Linked DNA regions of Homo sapiens. The protein of the gene in region 1 interacts with the protein of each later gene in a pairwise test. Each region holds a gene or a part of one and is shown in the gene's direction. Other genes may lie near its edges. The genes, in order: SLAIN1, GOLGA1 and PAX9.

Region 1 (7,111 bases):
TTCTTGTGAAGATAGAACTAGAACATTACTTTTGGTTCCCTGAACTTTAAAGAATATGTGGTTATTAAAACGTTCCACATTGTTTGACAGGAAATGTACCTCATTTCCAGATGGTCTGACACAAGTTGGAGATCACAGCTTTGTTCCAAGGGGAATAGTGTCCTAAATATTTACACTTGGAAGACCTTATTTTTAAGAGCATATTTCAGGATTAAAGCTTTGTGAAACTGACTTGTTGCTTAAATATGAGTAAAGATTGGTTTTAAAGACTAACACAGATTAGAGGCATAGCCAAATGTAACGTATGGACCTTGATTGGATCGTGGTTTAGAGGAAAAAGCTTGTGAAAGATATTCTTGGGATGTCTGAAAAATTTTGTATGCAGATTATCATATGATATTGTTAATTTGTTTACATGTGATTACAATATTGTGATTCCATAGAATTTTCTCAGGAGATCAATATGCATTTAAAGTGTCAAGATGTCTGAAGTTTTATCTTGTTTAGCAAAGCAAACAAAAGTACATGTGGAGATGAATTAAATATGGCAAAATGGAAACAACCAGTATAGCCAGGTGGAAAAACAGGTGTTTATGATACTATTTTTTAACATTTCTATATGTATGAAAACTATTATAGTAAATAGTTGGAGAGAGATTTTAAAAAGAAATATAGAAGCTCAATTAATTTTCTCAATAGCATATAATTATGTTCCTGTGCCTCCCTGCTGCTTAAAAATATATGTATTGGAAATATGTATAGTGAAAATAGTCTAGTACTGATAGAGGCTGTCTTTTTTACACCAGTTTTTGTAATAGTCAAAAGATCTAGATATGGCCACTAAGATTATGTAGAGATGAATCCTTCTAATTCCTCCCTTCTTACTACACACTGTCTGCCAAATCATACACATAATATTTGCTGATATATAAAGTACCTGCTCTGTGAGGCTGGGAACTTTAATAGGAATTTGGGAATACGAGACGTATGATTGTTAAAAATAGGCATCAAGAAGATAATGAGGAAAATTGCCAAGGAATCTAACAGTCAGTGGCAATATTTGAGCATCCTTACTCTAGAACTACACACAGAAAGTAATGTGTGAGAGGTAGATACTTCCAGCTGGGAAGTCCATAGAAAAGCTTCTCTATGGTGGGGATAATTGTGCCAATTCTTAAAGTATTAGTAAGACCCACATGAGTAAAATATTCTTTTGTGCTTTCTACCATAGCACTCTCTACAATTTTTTATGCTCTCTTATTATACATATTATCTAAGTATACTTATTGTGCTTGTTTAATCTTCTGCCTTTTCCACCCCAAGGGAGCAAAAATTGCTGGACATGGCAACATTTAATAGGTGTTAGTAATGTCAAAGGAGTAGTGTATGAAAGGGGAATAAGAAGAGCTGAGTTTGATTTTGACTTGAATGCCTTTTGGATTAGCATTCAAGTATATCATTATTTTCTGGTTTTGCTTGAAAGAAAATGACCACAAGATTGAATGCTCTGATATGTGCACTTTAGTGTTTTGCGGTATATATCAATAAAGATAAAAATATCTTGTAAGTTGGAGGGGTGAAAAAAATTTTAGATATTACAATGATTTATGATCTTCCATGGTTTACCCCTATCAAAATGTTAATCTTTAATATTTATTTTATTTGGGAAAAAATTTAATTTTAAGTTTAATTAAATTTATTTTAGATTTTCTCTTTAGGATCAACAATGGGTGGGGAAGGATTGAGAAGCACTGGTCTAGACTATAAACCTAGACCATAAATCTTGACTATAAACTCAATGAGACTCTGGACTGTATCTGCCTAATACACTGTGGTATCCCCAACAGCTCACAGAGTGTCTGGTATTTAGTGTAAACACAATAGATGTTTGTTCCCTTGTTCATTTGTTCCTTCTCCAAAGTGAGGTTGGGTGTCCACATGGAGGGACCAGCCTGCTCACAGGTATGAGAGAGTTCACCCCTGTGGTCGGGGAGCAGGCTGAGAGGCCAGGCTGGAGAAGTATAAAGAGCCTGGGCCTTGAAGCCCTCATCTGGGCTGTGCTCAGGAGCTTGGCCTTTCAGAAGAGGGAGCAGGGGAGGAATTGAGGAGTTGGAGGGATTTCAGCAAGTGGGTGACGCATGCTGTGCTCTAGGAAGAGTGGAATCGAGTACTTGAATTAGTTTTGTCCTTGAATTAGTTATGGCTTAGTACTCGTATATATGCTTTTTTTTTCAGTTTAAATGACCTGACATAGGTACTTTAGTTTTTGGGGGATGTGTATTGATCAAGGAAAAAGTGTCTCATAGAGTTGTGGTCTTGTGGCTGGCTTATTTCACATGTGTTATTTCACACATCTCAACATTGAGATCTGTATGTGACTCTCTGCTGCCTCTTGGTGGCAGAAGATGAACTTAGCAAGGCAAAAAAATTGAAGCATTCTCTTGGTCTTTTTTATCTGCAAACATTTGGTGGCGTACTCATGAAAGTTAAAACTTTCCAGAGATTAATGTGGTCATGTTAATGTGATGAGTGGATATTTCAAGACATCTGAAGTTTGAATTTTATTAATTTGTTCCATTTTGATATGGTAGCAAAAGATTCAGTAAATGTTGGTTTTGATTCTTCTAGGGTTCTTTTTTTTTTTTTTTTTTAAGAAGCATGTAACTTAATTTCTAGGGTTGTTTTGGTAAATTTAATGGCTATAAGATTATTTTCTAACTTTTTAAATATAGTTTTAGCCACTTATTGAATAGGAACAGATAGCTAACTGCTTAGCTAGTCCCTAAGTCTTTTTATAGAAGTTTCGTTCTCCTTTAACACATTGTATTAGTTAGGGTTCTCTAGAGGGACAGAACTAACAGGATAAATGTATATATGAAGGGGCATTGATTAAGGAGTATTGACTCACACGATCACAAGGTGAGGTCCCATGATAGGCTGTCTGCAAGCTGAGGAGCAAGGAAGACAGTCGGAGTCCCAAATCCTCAAAAGTAGGGAAGCCGCCAGTGCAGCCTTCAGTCTGTGGCCAAAGGCCTGAGAGATCCTGGCAAACCACTGATGTAAGTCCAAGAGTCCACAAGCTGAAGAACTTGGAGTCTGATGCTCGAGGGTAGGAAGCATCCAGCACAGGAGAAAGGTGAAGTCTGCTCCTTCTGCATTCTTCTGCGCTTTTATCCTAGCCATGCTGGCAGCTGATTAGATGGTGCCTATCCAGATGGAGGGTGGGTCTACCCCTCCCAGTCCACTGACTCAAATGTTAATCTCCTTTGGCAACACCCTCACAGACACACCCAGGAGCAATGCTTTACATCCTTCAATCCAATCAAGTTGGCACTCAATATTAACCATCACACATGCTTATTTGGTGGGAACCCTTCTGGTTGGGAAGGGTGTTTTCCTGTACAATAGGTTAGAAAGCTTGATCATCAACATGTAATAATTTGTATTTATTATTGAGCACAATATGACTTTTGTTATTTGCTTTTGAAAGCTAGTACTTTGGTTGCATAACATCTGTCATTTTTAACTTAGTAAAATTCTTTTCCAGATAAGCTCCGAAGAAGTATGCCTAACCTAGCCCGGATGCCAAGTACAACTGCCATTAGTAGCAACATTAGTTCTCCGGTCACCGTGCGAAATAGTCAGAGTTTTGACTCAAGCTTGCATGGAGCTGGAAATGGAATTTCAAGAATACAATCTTGTAGTGAGTATAATTATTTGATATAATTATATATTGTATAATTGTATAATTTTTTATAATTTTTAATTGTAAGGAAAATGTCTGTTTTATTTCTTTGTATTTACTTGAAAGAACACTAAACTTTTTTCCTTGCCGTGTAACTTATTTTTTTATTTCACCATTAGAGTTGAATAGTATTTTTACTATTCAAATAGTATATTTACTATTCAACTTACCAGTGCCTGTGGTATAAATTACTTACCAGTGCCTGTGGTATCAATTAATAATAGTAAATTGTTATTTGTATAATAATAGTAAATTATTTGTAGTCCTTTATATCCTAGGATAGTAGAAGTACTACATGGTGATTGATTTATCCACTCATCATACAAAAATTGTTTTCCTTGCAGATCCTCCTCCTTCTAGCTGTCTACCTGAATAAGCACACTTAATTCTGTTTAGCCGTTCCTTTTGTCTTGTTTTTCACCTATGCATACTTTTGTCTTTTTCCCCCTAAATGAAGTTATATTTTAGAGTGTCTAAAGTAGTTTTTGTCCACTCTATTTAGCTTACCCCACATTCTGTTACTTACTTTCTATGTTTTACCCAGCAGTGAGTGACACAGTTAGCATTAGGCCTAGTGCTGTGTATCTTCACTTTATGTGGGGATGTGCTGCTTCGGCATCCCCCTATTCCTACTCATGCTGTCTATATGGGTTGTTGCAGTTAAGTCTTACACTGACTTCCAGGAGGAAGGCACAAGGTTATATTACCAGTATTCATAAAAATGCCCAAACTTGGGAGGCTGAGCATGTTCTGAGTGTACTGGCCAAGAGTCGTCAACCGGATGTTTTAAGTCTGCATCCAAAATGGTTTGTAGCTTTTCTCCCTCAAACTTAGTTTTAGGTGTCAGGTTGTATCTCCCTAACATGCAGCGATCTTTCATTTCTTTATGTTTTAGTTCCTAACAACCAAGTGACATCATTTACTCTGTACAAGGAACTGTGCTAACTAGTTTATATTCATTATCTTATTTAGTTCTACCAACAACTCTATGAATTAGTTTCTACTGCCATTCTTATTTTGTGGAAGAGGCAACAGTTCTGATAGGTTAAGGAACAGTTTGTCTAAGGCCATACAGTTGGAAGAGCAGAGAGGCAGACCTAGGTCTGGTTACTCCCAGAGCTTTTAACTGCTATCATATTCTAGCTCCACGTGCTGTTCTTCTCTGCCTAGCATTCTTCCTTTTCCTTCTTCGTTCAGTTTACTCCTATTTACTTTTATAACACAGTCCAAATACCATGCCTTTGGAAGTCTTCATTGCTTACTTAATCACCCTAACACACTTTCTCAAATACCCCCCAAACAATACTAGAGTGGATTAGATTTTCGGTGCTTACCTCTGTTATTCAATGTACCATGTTTTACTATTAATATGTTTGTCTTCCTTACTAGATTGTAAGCTCCCTCTGGGCTTGGGCCATCATTTATTTGATTTTCTGTTCCCAGTGCCTGACGTATTGCCAGAACATAAGGAACTCTCAGTGAATGCTTGAATGAATGCCACAGGATTCTATGTTAAGGCTTGACCTATTAAATATTTAGAACCAATGACTTGTATAAGGACACATAAACAACCTATGAAATTTGCCAATAGTAGAAACCGAGAGGACTAACAACTCATTTTATGTCAGGAGGTTAGGAGAATGGGCCAAATGTATCATGAAGAAATTTAGCTGATAGAAATATACAATTCTATGTCTGAATTACAAAAATCAGTAACATACCAGCCTAGGCAATATGATGAAACCCCGTCTCTACAAAAAATACAAAAATTAGCCAGGCATAGTGGCACATGTCAGTAGTCCTAGCTACTTGGAAGGCCAAGGTAGGAGGATCACTTGAGCCTGGGAGGTTGAGTCTGCAGTGAGCCAAGATTGCACCACTGCACTCCAGCCTGGGCAATAGATAGAATGAGACCCTGTCTTGAAAAAAGAAAAAAAAAAATCAATAGTGTAAGTGTGGGAGGGGAGAAATACAGTTTGGAGAATAGCAAATATAGTAACAATTAGGAATTTTTGTTGACTCCAACTCAATGTGTATTAGTAGCAGATTTGAGTGCCAGAAAAATGTATGTAGCCCAAAATAGAATGTACACTGCAAAGAATGTTCAGCCTTGATTGAAGTGCCCCCAAAATGACGGGAAAATGTCAAAAGGATACAGGAACCAAGTTGAAGGAACCTCCTAATGGCCAAATTTGGGGCAGTTTGAGCCACAGAGTAAATAATTATAGTAATGGATTATAACTGATGGAATAAAATAAATATGCATGGGTTCATACTTAATTGGATAAATAGAGGGGAACATCCTCTTTGTAGTAGATTCCAATTCATGCGTGTAAAAGCAATGAGGAAAATATAAAAATCATCATTTCTAAGTCAAGCATAATACTGAGAGAAAGCCCCCAAGAAGAATATTAAAGTGTAGGAGAAGGAGGACTCTCATAACTTTTGTTTCAAATCTTAAGATTATGTTCTCATTTACTTTCATTTCTGAGCATTCTAAGCCACTGTTCTTTATGCATTCTAAGTTCCTATCATGACAATTTCTGGTTCTGGGCCATTTTGCTTTCTGGAAAGAACAGAGGTAGGATAGAGAGTTGGAAAGGCTGCAAGTATAGAAGGAGGAACACAGTTGTAGTCAAAGACCTGGTTTTGGGTCTTTTCTTAATCATAAATTCTTTGGAAAGTTAAGTATTCTTTCTCAGTCTTGTTTTCTCAGTTGTAAAATTAGGATTATGCCTATTAATTCTAACTAGTTTCTCTTATGTGTTTTTTTTTAAATCAAGGGTGGTTATATATGTTACATGTAGGAGAGATAGTAGGACTCTATTCCTGAATAAACTGTTCTGTAATTTCATTTCAAATGAAATTGGTTGGCATTTCATTGACTCTGCAGATCAATTTTTGGAAGATCTTAACAATATTAAGTCTTTGCATCCATTAATATGTAATAGTCCTCCATTGACTCAGGTCTTTAATATCAGTGAAGTTTTGTAGCTTTCTATATAGAGGTTTTATGTTTCTATAGTTAAATTAATTTCTAGGTATTGTGATTTTTAATAAGTAGTATTTTTATAAATAGTATTTCCTCAGGTTTCTTTCAGTTTCTACTAGTTTGCTGGTATTTTGAATATAATTGATTTTTGTGTTTTGATATTGAATCCAGCAACTTTGCTAAATTAATATCTCCTAATAGTTACCCAACATAATGAGTGCATATGATCACCAAAACATGTTCAAGGAGGTTCATAAAACCCCAAATTAGAAATAACCTAGCTTTCTGTCATCAGGGGAATAATCACATTTATACAATGGAATACTGCTTAGTAATACAGCAACACAGGTGAATCTCACAGACAAAGTGTCGAG
Region 2 (7,412 bases), on another chromosome or scaffold:
CCACGACCAGCTAATTTTGTATTTTTAGTAGAGATGGGGTTTCACCATGTTGGCCAGGTTGGTCTCGAACTCCTGACCTCAAGTGATCCACCCGCCTCGGCCTCCCAAAGTGCTGGGATTACAGGTGTGAGCCACTGTGGCCGGCCTAAAAAAAATTCTTTTTAATAGTTATCAGACTACTTTAACCAGTGCCATGTTTAAACATACTTGGACAATAGACTCAGTTTTTTTAATAGTTTGAAGTACATTATATTAAAACTACAAACTCACTTATTCAAGCCTAAATTTCATCATAGACTATAAATTGGGTATCAATTTCCTATTTTGGTGGACAATTCCAGTCTGTCTACTACGACAATCATCTTTTTAGGTGTAATATTGTTTAAGACATAGGTAATTTTAGGTTTTATACTTTTCTCCTAGGCTTATGGAATGAAAGCTAATAGGATATCACTTTCAGAATGAAATAGGGAATTATGGCTAGCCTTCTTATAGGGCTGCCGTAAATGATACTTAAATGTTTGTTATATCACTGATTTTCTTTTCTCTTCTGAAGCTGTTGTGAATGTCCACTTTGCCATGATTAAAAGTTGAGATTTGTAAACATTACAATTTGAACCATAAATTTTCTCAAACATGAAATCAGTATGAATAAGTATAAAATTTGAAATGATCATACATGAGAATCCCAAAAGTAAATACTTCCAAACCATAGAGGGATAACCACTGTATTTTTAAAAAGCTTATTTCCACCCTTAAAGAAGCATGCTACTAATTGCTTTTTTTCTAAATTAAAACTATGTACTGTGGTAAATTAAAAATCTGCAGGAAAAATTGCTTAGTGTTTTAGCACAATAAGAATTTTTATTACTCAGGAGTTGGAGACCAGTCTGGGCAATACAGTGAAACCCTGTCGCTACTAAAATACAAAAAAAAAAAAAAAAAAAAAAAAATTAGCCAGGCATGGTGGTGTGCGCCTGTAATCCCAGCTACTTGGGAGGCTGAGGCAGGAGAACTGCTTGTAACCTGGGAGGCGGAGGTTGCAGTGAGCCGAGATCGTGCCATTGCACTCCAGTCTGGGTGACAGAGCAAGACTCATTCTCAAAAAAAAAAAAAAAAGGAATTTTTATTACTATTTCCTGAAGAATGGTTTTTGTTAACTTGTTACTGTATCATTAAAAAGACCTTCTAATGGTTCAGTACAATAATCTAGAACTTGATTTATGTGGCTTTTTATAGTTATCTGAATGCATTCCTTTTGCCACATAGACCATATGGCTAGTTCTCCAACTTTTTTGCTTATTTTTAATAAACCTTGCTGTTCAACAATCAGAGAAACCTTTAGATTTTGGATGATTCTTCCAGTTGAGGTAGAAACATCTTAGATAATAGGAAAGGCAAATACAAAGTCCTAACATTTTCATAGTAGAGTTTACAAGTAAAATAACTTATCCATATAGGTTATCTTCGTTGTGTAGCACCAGTATAAATAGTGATTTCATTAATCATTGAATCAGATGAAGCAGTTATAAATCACTTTTTACTTTGTGCTAAGAATTATTGTAATTTCAGGACACTTTATTATTTCCTCTGAGCAGTTTCCATTGGAAGGTTGAGTTTCCCTTTTTTAAGTTCTAATCATCACTAAAGGTTAAGATAATCAAATAGGAGTTAAAATAAGTTATGTTTGATCTTTTTCCCTTGAAAATAATGCTGAACTTATTGTCTACATTCTGATTATTAGGCAGAAATGCACTTGTTTAAATCATAGAAGTAATTCATTTGGAGGATATAATTACTCGATTTTCTAGTGGTGTGAAATACTTTTTAACAATTGTGCTTGTCTGTAACTGAAATGTTATAGAATTTTAACACTATAGGGATTATAGAGTTATATTAGCTCTCCTCAAGAGACTGAAGCACAATATTTTTCATGTAACAATTCTTATCCAAGTGCTGCTAATCTGTCGTGCAAATAATGAAGCTATTTGGTTGCCTATTTAGCTATTCACAAATCACTGTAATCTTTGAAACAATCTTGTCGTTCATTTGTATTAATATTTGGATATTGTGAGTTAATACTTTAGAAAAAAATCCATCAACTCAGCCCCGTTAGCAAAACTGTTTGGATTCATAGTTTTTATATGTGTTAACAGTAGAATAAATTTTGAAGGGGCTATTTACTACCAATGACTAAGGGGAAAATTATACTGTCACTATCATTTGACTTGAACATTTGTGGTATTGTAAAAGTCTTGTCAGTTGTGTTCTAAATTGCTTAAGCCATACGTTCTCTTAAACAGGATGTTTTTTTCTTCCTTTCCAGCAGCCTTTTTCTTCTTTGTCTGTTATGGTTAATACTCCATAGATTTTAGAAATTGAGAAGTTCTTGAAACATTTTATTTTCTTGAGTTCATCACTTTTGACTCTTGTATGAGATGTGATTTGTCATAAAAGATAGCCTTCCACTACTTCACTAAATGAATTTCAGAGTAAACACTGTGATTCTGCAGAGCGGATTCAGTAGGCTTTCCAATGTTTTCTCCTGCTATACAGTGCCTACCACCTTGAGGGCACTTCAGTACTAGAGGATGAAAACTGAAACGTTGTTTTGATGTTTATTGAATAACGAGATTAGAGAATATTTGATTTTTGTTGTCAGTGTATTAAAGAAATTTTCACATTGATAAATGTTCTCTAGGAATGTGTCTACATTCATCAGGTGTGAACTCTTGTACATGAATTTTGTACCTTGAATCCACATATATATTAAGTGTATCATCAATATAAAAATAAACATTATTTGCTTAAAGTTTTTGGTACTTTTTCGGTATTGACAGCTGAACTGTTAGGGTTTGCTTCATTCAAATATCTCAGAGGCTTTGAACTATCTTGGGGTTGATGCTTCTTGTTAGTTTGTCAATGTTTGAATCCTGGTTTTGGTTTTTTCCCTGCCCTGCTCCTGCAGGTCAGAACTGGAACACGCGAGGGAAGGGACTGTTGAAGAATTGGGTGGAATCTGCTTATTCTTGGGCTTGTGTTGAGTCTGGGGATGGAACCAGAGTTCCTTAAGGTGGAATGGCTGGCTTGGCATTGACGAGTTCAGGGACCTGACTTAGGGTACTGATTTGGACCGTGACTTTTTGTTTGAGATAGAGTTTCGCTCTTGTTGCCCAGGCTGGAGTGCAATGGCGCGATCTTGACTCACTGCAACCTACACCTCCCGGGTTCAAGCGATTATCCTGCCTCAGCCTCCCAAGTAATTGGGATTACAGGCATGGGCCACCATGCCCGGCTAATTTTGTATTTTTAGTAGAGACGAGGTTTCGCTATGTTAGGCTGGTCTGAACTCCTGACCTCGGGTGAACCACCCGCCTCGGCTTCTCAAAGTGTGGGGATTACAGGAGTGAGCCACCGCGCCCGGCCTGGACTGTGACTTGGAACAAGATAGTTTTTCCTCTTTTGTTTATTTTCCTACTGCCTGCATGATTGCTATTTATTTAAAGAGACGGAGTCTCGCCACGGTGCCCAGGCTGGTCTGGAAGCCCTGGTCTCAAGAGATCCTCCCACCTCGGTCTTCCGAGTAGCTGGGACCACAGAAGCGCGCGCCGTGCACTTTTGATGTTTTCAACTTCCTTCCTAAGCAGAAAGGAGACGGCCCAGCAGCGGATGGTGAAGCTAATCCAATATAGTGAGCTGCCACCAGCGTTTTTAAGTGCATTACATAGTAAGAACGTGGTTCTGCTGGACGTTATGTACTCGGTTGCGATATAAAACGCATCATCTACAGTAGGTGACAGGCGCCAAAGTCTAAAAACTGGTCTCAAGGTGTAAGGTCCCAGGACTAGTTTCTGGAGCTACTGGCTTGTGAGTGAAGCTGGAGGCGCAGACTTCCCGGGTCACACGGTGGCAAGGCAGCTGCCTAGGGTGCGGCGGGACCGGGCGGCGCGGGGGGGCGCCTGGCCAAGCAGTGCAGCCCCGGCCGGGTTTGTAGCCAGCACAGCACAGCGGGGCCTGTGGCACCGACTGGGTTCTTTTACTTTTGACACGAAGCCCCTCCCACTTACCACGCTCTGCACGCGCCCCTGTTAAAATAGAAAAAGACCGAGAGGCCTCGGAGACTCAGTCATCATCTGTGGCTCTGGCCGCTCGCTGACGTGGCGAACTGGGCTGAGGGAGCGCCCGGCTGGGCACCCGAGAACTCCAGCCGTTCCGGCCCAGTCGCCGCTCAGAGGTGGTAACAGTAGCCGCCAAGGCCGCGCACGGGCGCATGCGCGCGTCGGACCAACCCCCTCCCCCCACCGCGCAGTCACTTCCGGCGCGCTGGGAGACGTGCGGTTCCGGGTCGCTGCTCGGCTCGCCGGCTGGGCGGTGGGGGTTGGTGACGCGGGCCGGGGCTCACGAGAGGCCCGGGAGGCGGGGCTTTGCTGGCTTCCCAGAGAGAGGCAGGTGCGCGGGCCAGGACTCCGGGAATGCGAGCAGGCCCCTTATTCTCCCAGTGGCCTCGGTCTGTCCCCACAGCGGCCCGGTCAGGGTTGCCCGAGCCCCAAGGCGGGGGGCGGCACCGGGGTGCTGAAAGGGTGAGAGTGGGGGCGGAGGCGGGCTGCCCCGGCCTGGGAGTCTGGAGCCTAGGGTTCCGGGATTCCTCCCTGCGCGACCTTGGACAAGTCGCTCCTCCTCTCTAGGGCTCAGTTTCCTTGCTGTCAAATGGGAGAGATGTTGGATCCTTCCTTTCTTTGACAGTCCAAAGCACGGGCGGGGCTGGAGGTAGCCTGAGGGAGTGAGATCCAAACTGCCGTGGCAGGCACCTGCCTGCCTCCCTGGGGGTTAGACATCTGTCTTTACCCAATTTTGCCTTGCTTTTTGTCAGTGCACATCCGTGACCAGACGCCCAGGGTCTGGCCGGGTAAACAGTATGTGAGTGTAGTAATCAACTGAGAAATAAATACTGGCTCCAGGAAAACTTAACCTCATTCAAATTGTTTTGCTCAGGGCTCCCAGGGAGAAGTGAATTTAGGCACCCGCTGCGGTGATCAATTCTGTTCTATGCGCTTGTAAGTGAAGCTCTTAGGCAAAAAACAATTTCATAGGAGATCAGGGTTAGGGAGGGTATCCCATTGAGAGTTGTGACAGGTTTTCTTACCCCCTTTAATCCTTCTTCTGCCCCTCCTCTTCCTTCACTTCTTCCCCCTATCCCCACCCAACATTTTGGCCATACACTTGAAAAGAAATACCCAATGCATTTTATCTTTGTCTTCATGCAGGACAGAATGCTTTGACCTCCAAGCTGTTTTAAATCTAGTAGATAAGCCAGGTGAGTAAGTGGTTTACACACATTGAAAGTAAAGTTTCTGAAGAATTGTACAGCCTTAATGGAGGATCTGAAGTGGTAAGATGGCATTTGTGTATCTCAGAGCAGAGCTTAGGTATCCTCCACAAAACATGGAAAGTTAAGGTTGGAACCAGAATATTAGTGTTTTATACACCATTAGGAGGAAAAGGTTTTTGAATCTTACTTTGAATATCATGTCAAACATTCTTAAGAAAAGAAACTGTGAGGCCGGGCGCAGTGGCTTATGCCTGTAATCCCAGCACTTTGGGAGGCCAATGCAGGTGGATCATCTGAGGTCAAGAGTTTGAGACCAGCCTGACCAACACGGAGAAACCTCGTCTCTACTAAAAATATAAAATAAGCCGGGCATAGTGGCGCATTCCTGTAATCCCAGCTACTCGGGAGGCTGAGGCAGGAGAATCGCTTGAACCCAGGAGGTGGAGGTTGCGGTGAGCCGAGATAGTGCCATTGCATTCCAGCTTAGGCAACAAGAGCGAAACTCCATCTCAAAAAAAAAAAAAAAAAAAAAAAAAAAAAGAAAGAAAGAAAATAAACTCATTGGAGGTAATTTTATCAAACTCAAAACCACACAGCGTCTCTAGAAAATGTTCAAGGATATCAGATACTTATATAATAGAGTTGTCTGGTGTGTCTTCTTTTTTCTGTTACCAGCTTTTCCTATTGGACAGTTGATTGCAAACCATCCTGAAACAGTAGGATATTACACCTTTTACATATTGAATTACATATTGAATATTGAATTACATATGAATTGAATTACATGCATTTTTGTCTTCAACTTAAAGAACACTAAACTGTAGTTAAGCTTATTGGAGGAAGGATTTGAAATCATTAAGTCATGAATATATGATGTTGATGTCTGCTCTGGGACATTTTACCAAGTGTGTTATATGTCATAGCCAACATGTAATTAAAAAAAAAAAACGTAGAGATTTGTGAATCAGAGTCCTCTGTTCAAATACCAGCCCTTCCACTTAGCCACACAATCTTTGGTAGGTTACTTCATCTTCTTGAGACTGGGTTTCTTCATCTGTATATGCATATGAAGCACCTGAGTGCTTTTTAAATGTTTAGTAATTGTGTTCTATAAGTGTACATGTAAGTTATGAAACTTAGTTTTGAAATCTAAAACTTAACAACTCAGATGCGAAATCTTTCCAATGTTTAACTTTTGAACTGTCTCTTTCATCTGATTTGTAGATCCTGTGTTGCCATAAGCCCTTGGCCCACATTTAAGTGGGAATGCAGCTAGCTTGGATGTCTGAAACTTTGTAGGCGCCTCTGTCTGAATCCTGAACACAGGCACCAGGACTACTGAGAGCTCGTCATCTGTGCAGGATAGCCACACAGCAAACATGTTTGCAAAACTGAAGAAGAAAATTGCAGAAGAGACTGCTGTTGCTCAGAGGCCAGGAGGTGCTACTAGGATCCCACGGTCTGTGAGCAAGGAATCAGTTGCCTCAATGGGAGCTGACTCAGGAGATGACTTTGTAAGTACCTTTACTTAAGAAATAAAGATACTTTTGCAGGGTATTCTTCCAATAAATATTTTAAATTGCTTGATTATTTCATACCTTTCATGGTTTATAGCTGTACAAGAGCCTGTACATCTGATTCTTCTTACTCTGAGGTACCTTTTTGTTAATGTTTGGTTTGTAAATGTTAAGGTACTCTATATTTTTTTCCTTATTTTTCTGTGAGTTCCTCTCCATATTCTCTCCAGTGTCCTCTTGTACTGTTTTTCCGTCTATATACCTTATACATCTTCTTTTGCATTTCATTTCTGAAAATGTCTGGGCCTGTTTTCATTGCAGACATATATACTTATATAACAACTAAGTCATTGCTGCTTAACAAGGTCTCTGAGTTGTGGTATGGGGTTAGCAAGAGTGCATTGTTGTATTGGGACGATTGTTGGAAAGATGGCCCCAGTGATTACAGTATGTTGCTTTTTTTCTTTTTTCTTTCTTTTTTTTTTTTTTTTGAGATGGATTCTCGCTCTGTAGCCCAAAGTGGAGTGCAGTGGCCTGATCTTGGTTCACCACAACCTCTGCCTCTG
Region 3 (7,111 bases), on another chromosome or scaffold:
CTTTTTAAGTAATTAAAGCAGGGCTCTGATTTCTCATCTTCTTGTTTTCTGACTGCAAGTTTACAAGAGCCCAGTTTTGTCTTATTTGGAGCTACTTGGAGCCATAGTTGGAGAGAGTTTGCCCTTGATTTATAGGATAAACTGACCTCACTGACATTTAAAGGAAGCCCCTGTTCATGGGAAAGTGTGAGATCAGCAGAAATGGGGGCTCACAGGGGGATCTCAATTTCTTAAGATAACTTCAAGCTTGTGCCCACCGACTGCCTTTTGTCTGGGAAGGCAAAGACAGACAGGCAGTTCTGGACCAAAACACAGTTTCCTGGTGCAAATGGGACTCAATCTAATTCTTGGGGGTGGTAGAGGAGGAGACATAGTGAAAAAAAAAAAAAAAAAAAAAGGCTGACAGAGTTTAAAAGAAAACTTTTCCTGCCTAGGGATCCTACCATCAGAGCAAATGTCAGTTGGGAAAGTATTGGAGAATGGAAAGGAGCAACTTTTCCTTTCAGATATTATTGTGATTTTGGATGCCAGCTTTAAACAACCCAGTTTGTGACACATTTGTGATTATAAAAATGATCATTTCTACAAAAATGCTCACTCTTTTAAAGCACTGTGTTAGATGGAAGTGTTTAAAATCAAGTTACAATGGCTTTGCCAAACCACTCCTCCACCCATAGGACCCAAAGACAAACATACATTGTTTGTAGCCTTCACATATCTCTTTGAAACTATACCTGGTCACTGAAAAATGCCAATAATTCAATATTCTCAACCCCAGGTATTATAGTAATTACTTTACACCATACAATTTTCTTTGCATCTCCACCAAGAACAGAAAGAATAACTGATGGCATTACACCTTAACACTTAATTTTACTTTCATTTTCTTAACCTATTTCATTTTCTCTTTCTTGTATATACATTTTTTAAACTCTTTCAGGAAAACCCTGCCACTAACACCCATGGCATGTATAGTGGTAATTGCAAGATTTATTTTTAAGTCATATGCACATATCACATATGTAATGTGTAGAGGTAGTGTATCAAGGGGAGCCCTATGCACACACAAAGCAGAAATCTGTGCATGTATATTTTGCACTGTATCGTGGGAATAATTTAGTTATTTGTTTGCAAAGGACAGTGCAGGTCTTTTTGTTCTCTATTGACATAAGTACCAGATCCCCACAGTGCAGTGAGCACCAGTGCAGGCACCCTTAGGTCAGACGCTCCTCTCTTTCTTTTCAGCCAGCCCCACTGCCAAATTGTTGTCAACCCCCAGTCGGCCTTGGGTTAAGAATGAGGAGGTGGAGAACGGCACGTGCAGCCTTAAGGGTTCCTTCTCCGATTTAGGTTTCTTCCACTCCTTTGCCCTGGGAGAGCAAAGGGGCGAAGGGAAATCAAAAACCGGTTGAAAAAGAAAAAAGTGTCTTCCCTCAGGCGTGGGTCAGAGAATTTGGAAAGGCCTACTCTGAGGGGAGTAAAACTTCACCAGGCCCTGGGCTGGAAGCACAGGAGGTCGCGGCTGGGCCCAGCGCCCTCGGGAGGCCAAGGGCAGGGAGCCGACCCAAGGTCTAAGCCCTCCAGCTCTCCGTCGCGGGTTTGGGTCCCGTCTCAAGAGTGGGGCGCGCGGGCTGGGCCTCCGGCCTGACACCCTCTCTTCTCTCCATCAGTGAGCGACAGCTCCCCCTACCACAGCCCCAAGGTGGAGGAGTGGAGCAGCCTGGGCCGCAACAACTTCCCCGCCGCCGCCCCGCACGCGGTGAACGGGTTGGAGAAGGGAGCCCTGGAGCAGGAAGCCAAGTACGGTCAGGTGAGGAGGCGAGGGTCAGGCCAGGTGGGCCGCGTGGCGGCGGGGATTTAGGCGATGGAACACTTTGTGATGGGTCCCTTTCTGAGCTTCCCGCGAGAGAAGCCCAGGCTGGCGTCCCTTTGCTGCTACGAGCCAGATCCTTCGTGGACTGGGGCGAAGCAGAGGCCTGAGCCTTGGAAGGCGGAGCTGGGGCCTCGACCCCCGCCAGGGGCCGGGAGCGCTCGTCAGGGCGCTGGGGGTCTGGGGCGGCAGCTCCCCGGGGCGAGGCTCTGGGAAGCGCCTCCAGGCCTGTCGGCCTCCGGGAGCTTGGGGAGGCGGCTCCCGAAGCCCTTTCGGCGGCTCTCGTTGGGGGTAGAGTTAACCAAAGAAGGCGCTTCTGAAGGGCCGAGCGGAGCAGCCCTGGGGCCTCAGAGCCGCGCCTTCACGCCCGCGAAACGCGCGCCCCGGGTCTCGGCCCCACGGTGCGACTGCGGCTGCGGGGTCCTCACGTTCGGACTTTCTCTCCGGTGGCTCTCGGACAAACACGCTTGGCCAATCCTGCGGAGAGGGGCACCCAGATAAACGTAACAAAGCTACCATTTTCTCGACTAAAGGTCACATTGTAATCTCCCAAGGAAGTTAGTGAGAAAACCTCAAATTATACGGACTGGCTGTGGACCGTTTAATTTTTCTTTCCCTCCGTCCCTCCCTCATGTCTCCAAAGGAAAATTTAAAACACTCGTGTTTTTATTTTCCCCCCGAGAAAAGCTAAACAACCACCACAACAAAAGCCCCAGATTTAAGTCTAAATTCATCACCGTCCTGGAGTCAAGAGTTCAAAACTCTCAAAAAACCGGACCTTAAGGCAATGTAAGGTTTCCCCAGCAGACCCCAGTAGGTTTGCAAATCTCTTAATCCCAAACTCAATTCCAAAGCCTCAAGCTATTCAGTTTTCCTTTTATTATTTTGAAGACTTAAAATTTTTAATGCTTTTTTGTCTGTCAAAATCAGCTTTTAAAATTAAGTGGAATTTGTTCCTCTTATTCACTTGAAAAAACATCTTAGTCATTATTTTCTGTAACAAATCCCATTTCCACTTCCTCTTCCCTCTCTTATTTTGTTGAAATAGAATCAGAATACATATTAGTGGCTCTCCAATGGCAAATAACACAGAAAATAGCAAGGAAAGAGAGCCCTTTTCCTTAGTCTGTTTCTACTGTGAAGAATGTCAATGAGAAATGATAAGGAAGTTTGTCATTTTCTTTTACTAAACGACCCACCCTTAATTCGTAATTTGCAAAGAAAAGGCAGAATAGTACAATGGTTAGGAGCTCCGATCTCTGGCTGTACGACTTCTTAGGAAAATATTTAATTTTTAGTCTCTATTTCTTCATCTTTAAAACAGGGAAATGATATTCCCAACCCAGAGATGTTATGAGTATTCAATGAGATAATGCAACCATATGGCACATAGTAAGCATTTATTAAGTATTGTCTGTGGTTCTAAGTGGCAGTTAAAAAGACACGTGTAAAAGTAAGTAATATTTATCAGAGTATACTTTGTTCTGAGAGACCATAGTCAAAAAGCTTCAAGAGATTTTGTTACAAACAATAGAAAGAGTGTATATAAAGCACCTACCATAGAAGCAAGCATTTAATAGGCGCTCAGTGCTTTTTATTAGGTCATCATTGATTGGAATAACATTGTGAAGTATAGAGTTGAAAAAGTTTCTAATTCCCACATGTCATTGATGAACCCAGTTTATATATCAAGCAGTCATAATCCCAAAAAAAACCCTTTATACTTATTATTTATTTATTTATTTTGAGACGGAGTCTAGCTCTGTCGCCAGGTTGGAGTGCAGTGGCGCGATCTCTACTTATTGCAGCCTCTGCCTCCCGGGTTCAAGCGGTTCTCCTGCCTCAGCCTCCTGAGTAGCTGGGATTACAGGCACGCGCCGCCACACCCACCTAATTTTTGTGTTTTTAGTAGAGAGAGGGTTTCACCATGTTGGCCTGGCTGGTCTTGATCTCCTGACCTCGTGATCCACCCACCTCGGCCTCCCAAAGTGCTGGGATTACAGGCGTGAGCCACCGTGCCGGCCAGTAATTTTTATTTTCTCTTCCTTGAATTATAGATCTAACATTGAAATTTGTTTGGAAATGCTTAATTTATAATACACTTCAAAACTAAACTGACAAATTATTTAAAATAAAAAATTTGAAGTTTTAAATAATTGATATTCTGATTATTAAAAATAGATTACATTTTATATACTAAATTTTAAATCACTAAATTATCACATTTATAAAAGAATATAATTTAAAGAAATAAGTAACCAAATAAATATTGCTCTAAATACTTAATAAGCTATTTTTTCCAGAATAAAAATATTTATATGAAACTTACATTTGCGAAGTTCTTAATTGCAATATGCTAATCTTCTGCATTGCAATGTATTTAATAGTTAGATAATTCAAATGATGTAAAATTTCAAAACCTGAAAAGTTTCTAAGAATAATATAAATTAGTGGCTACTCTATGATAATTATCAAAATAGTGCTTAATGTTGAAGATGTGCCAAGTTCAGCCGTGCCATTTTTCTGAGCAGTTTTGAACTTTAGACATTGATTTCATGTAAGGTTAAATTGCACATTAATACTTGTTTATAAACATACAAAGGTAAAGTGTTGCCCATATATGTGCATTTCTCTTACCAATATTCAAAGGGCAGATTTATTTTTAAAAGTTATTTTTCAAAATGGAATCAGCATATTTCAACCAAAATGTAAACTCTGGTAACACGTATTTTTCCCTCTGCTTATATTATGGACAATAACTTGAATGTCTTTGGCCAAAAAAAAGCTTTAAAATTTTTCCCACTTTCAGGGCATTTGTGATTGTTATTAAATAGTGCAAAATTATATGATACTAGTTTAATTTTATTATACAAAGAAGGAAATTGAGAATTCAGAATCATAGAGCTTAAAGCATATTTTTCTTGAGGACATCTGTAGAATTACCAAAGGGCTAAACTATGCAACTGAGTATAGATACTATTGATTACCATAATCTAGAGTTTCTATTTTCAGCTTAAACTGTAAAGACAGATGTCCTGATTCCTAGTAATTAAAACTGTATGCACATTTCAGCTATGCATATACCTATCTTTTGTCTTTGAAAATTCAGTGTAGAATATTCTAACTTGTCTTACATATTAATATTACATTGTAATTAATATTTTGCAGTGCCATTCAGAAGTCCTTATTGTCTCTGAGGATAGAATATTTATTTTGGCTTTTTTATACCCACAGTTAATATTGGGGCTAGAAGTACTTAATTCCATTTACTTCTGAATGGCAACAATGTTCTCTGCTTCCTGATGGCCGGTTCTCTTCTGTTGAAAGCATAAAACTCCAATGGAATAAAATTGAGTGGCCAAAAAACCTTATATAGAGAATCATAGGGACTGGAATACATTTGCCCTTTTAGGAAGTATTTCATGAATTAATGCCTCAATTTTATTCAAACTATATATAAATAATTGTATAGTTCTTGAAAAATTTTCTACAAATGGGCATACTGTCTCAAGAAAGATACATTGCATATCTGATACTCTAAAGTAATTGGAGTGACAGATTTATAAGCTTTGGGTATCTTCATTTTGGGGTTGCAGATATTAATTTGGCAAGTTTAATATAACACTAGCTACAGACTGAGATGTCAGAAATAGAGAATAGTCTATAAATACTTGAACTTTTTAAAAGTTCAGAATTAAGTTGTGAAAATAGTTGAATTTAAAGATATAATCTGAAATTCTTATGAAGCATTTACTTGCACATGCATTTGAAGTGAAGATAGTCTTCTAGAATCCTGAATGTGATTTTCTAGTGTATTATTTTAAAAACTGGCTGTCCTTGTGGATGTACTATTCTCAGGAAGATATAAATGATATTGCACTAAATTTGTCTTCATATTAAAGTTAATTTTTGTAAATAAGTTATGATTTATAGACAATGAAATCTTAGGCAAATGCCAGCAGAGTGTCTTTGAAATTCATAATGTTATCTGTTATGAAAAACATTCTTTGACCTGGTTACATTTTAACCAGTAGTATTTCAAAATAAAATTAATGATCATGTATCAGTAAAATGTATTGTATAAAATAGCAGGGAAAGGTAATTGCAAATTTTTCAAGGCTATGTCAATTTTAATAATATTTTGGAAAATTATAAAATTTAGAAAAGCTTTTAAATAGCGGCTTTCCATTTCTTAGAGACATTTACATCTACAATATGATAAGTAAGCATAATTAAGATCTTGTTGGATGAATGTTGAAACCATATTTATAACCATCATTTCATTTTGTCAGGTATGTTTTACTAGGTCATTGCATAATGCATTAAAAATGGAAGAATGACAGAAAAATGAGTTCACCAAAAAAGAGAAAATCTTGTTTATTTTCAGATCCAAAACTTTTTCTTGCTTATGATATCGAGGTTGAAATTCTAGGTGAAGCACATCTCTATTTGTGGCTAAATCTACTTTATTATAAAGCCAAGGTAAATTCATTTTATCATAAGAGGACCAGGTTGAACTGATAAGTGAAAGCAGATTGTGGGTAGAGGACCTGGCACTGTTATTTGCATTTATCTTCACGATAAATAATGTTGAGTAGACAATTCCCAGAATTTGAATAATGGTCTATAACCTCTAACTGCCAGACATTTGCCATACCAGTTTTATGGTGGTCACAAGTGTTTTGATACTAACGTATTTTCCTTTACTTGGAGGAGGGAGGATAAATGGAATAACCATAAATCAAGTAATAAATGGCTAGGTTAGAACTTCTGTTTACTTTTTTCAACAGCTTTATTCATTTTGCTTGCTTAAAGTGTAATGCTTGTTTTGTGATAAACGGTGCCTACATTTTTGCTTTGTTTTTTAAGCTACAGTGTCACATCTTTTGCTTTCACAAACCTATACTAACTTAAATATACATATGGTTGTGGAATGCTTATGATGTATCCTGTTTTGTGGGGATACAAGATGATTAAGGCAAGTCCCTGTCCTCAGACAGTTTACAATCTAGCCCTCTGCCAATACAGTTCCTCAACATATTCACCAAAGTTACTTTTAAAAAATTGGTAAATCTGTATTTTGAACATTTGGAACAAACGAAATTAAAACTTGTACTTTCATTCTTCTTGTGATAACCTTAACTAGAAGAACTACATTGCATCTTATATATTTTTTTCTAGACTATTTCCGTTAATGTCAGTGTGATGAAGTTGGTCTTTTCCTAAAAGTATTAAAACAAA

Evidence for each region.
Region 2: the proteins of SLAIN1 (region 1) and GOLGA1 interact in binary tests that used the Homo sapiens proteins (3 or more experiments, as listed by UniProt).
Region 3: the proteins of SLAIN1 (region 1) and PAX9 interact in binary tests that used the Homo sapiens proteins (3 or more experiments, as listed by UniProt).

The regions. Positions count from the first base shown.
Region 1 is NC_000013.11:77,749,656-77,756,766, forward strand, and holds part of SLAIN1 (SLAIN motif-containing protein 1), read left to right. Parts: intron 1-3,547; coding exon 3,548-3,703; intron 3,704-7,111. UniProt on the Homo sapiens protein: Microtubule plus-end tracking protein that might be involved in the regulation of cytoplasmic microtubule dynamics, microtubule organization and microtubule elongation.
Region 2 is NC_000009.12:124,938,008-124,945,419, reverse strand, and holds the start of GOLGA1 (golgin subfamily A member 1), read left to right. Parts: upstream 1-4,336; 5' UTR 4,337-4,449; exon of another isoform or gene 4,450-4,580; intron 4,581-4,614; exon of another isoform or gene 4,615-5,054; intron 5,055-5,264; 5' UTR 5,265-5,314; intron 5,315-6,553; 5' UTR 6,554-6,708; coding exon 6,709-6,843; intron 6,844-7,412. UniProt on the Homo sapiens protein: Involved in vesicular trafficking at the Golgi apparatus level. Involved in endosome-to-Golgi trafficking. Mechanistically, captures transport vesicles arriving from endosomes via the protein TBC1D23.
Region 3 is NC_000014.9:36,664,792-36,671,902, forward strand, and holds part of PAX9 (paired box protein Pax-9), read left to right. Parts: intron 1-1,670; coding exon 1,671-1,810; intron 1,811-7,111. UniProt on the Homo sapiens protein: Transcription factor required for normal development of thymus, parathyroid glands, ultimobranchial bodies, teeth, skeletal elements of skull and larynx as well as distal limbs.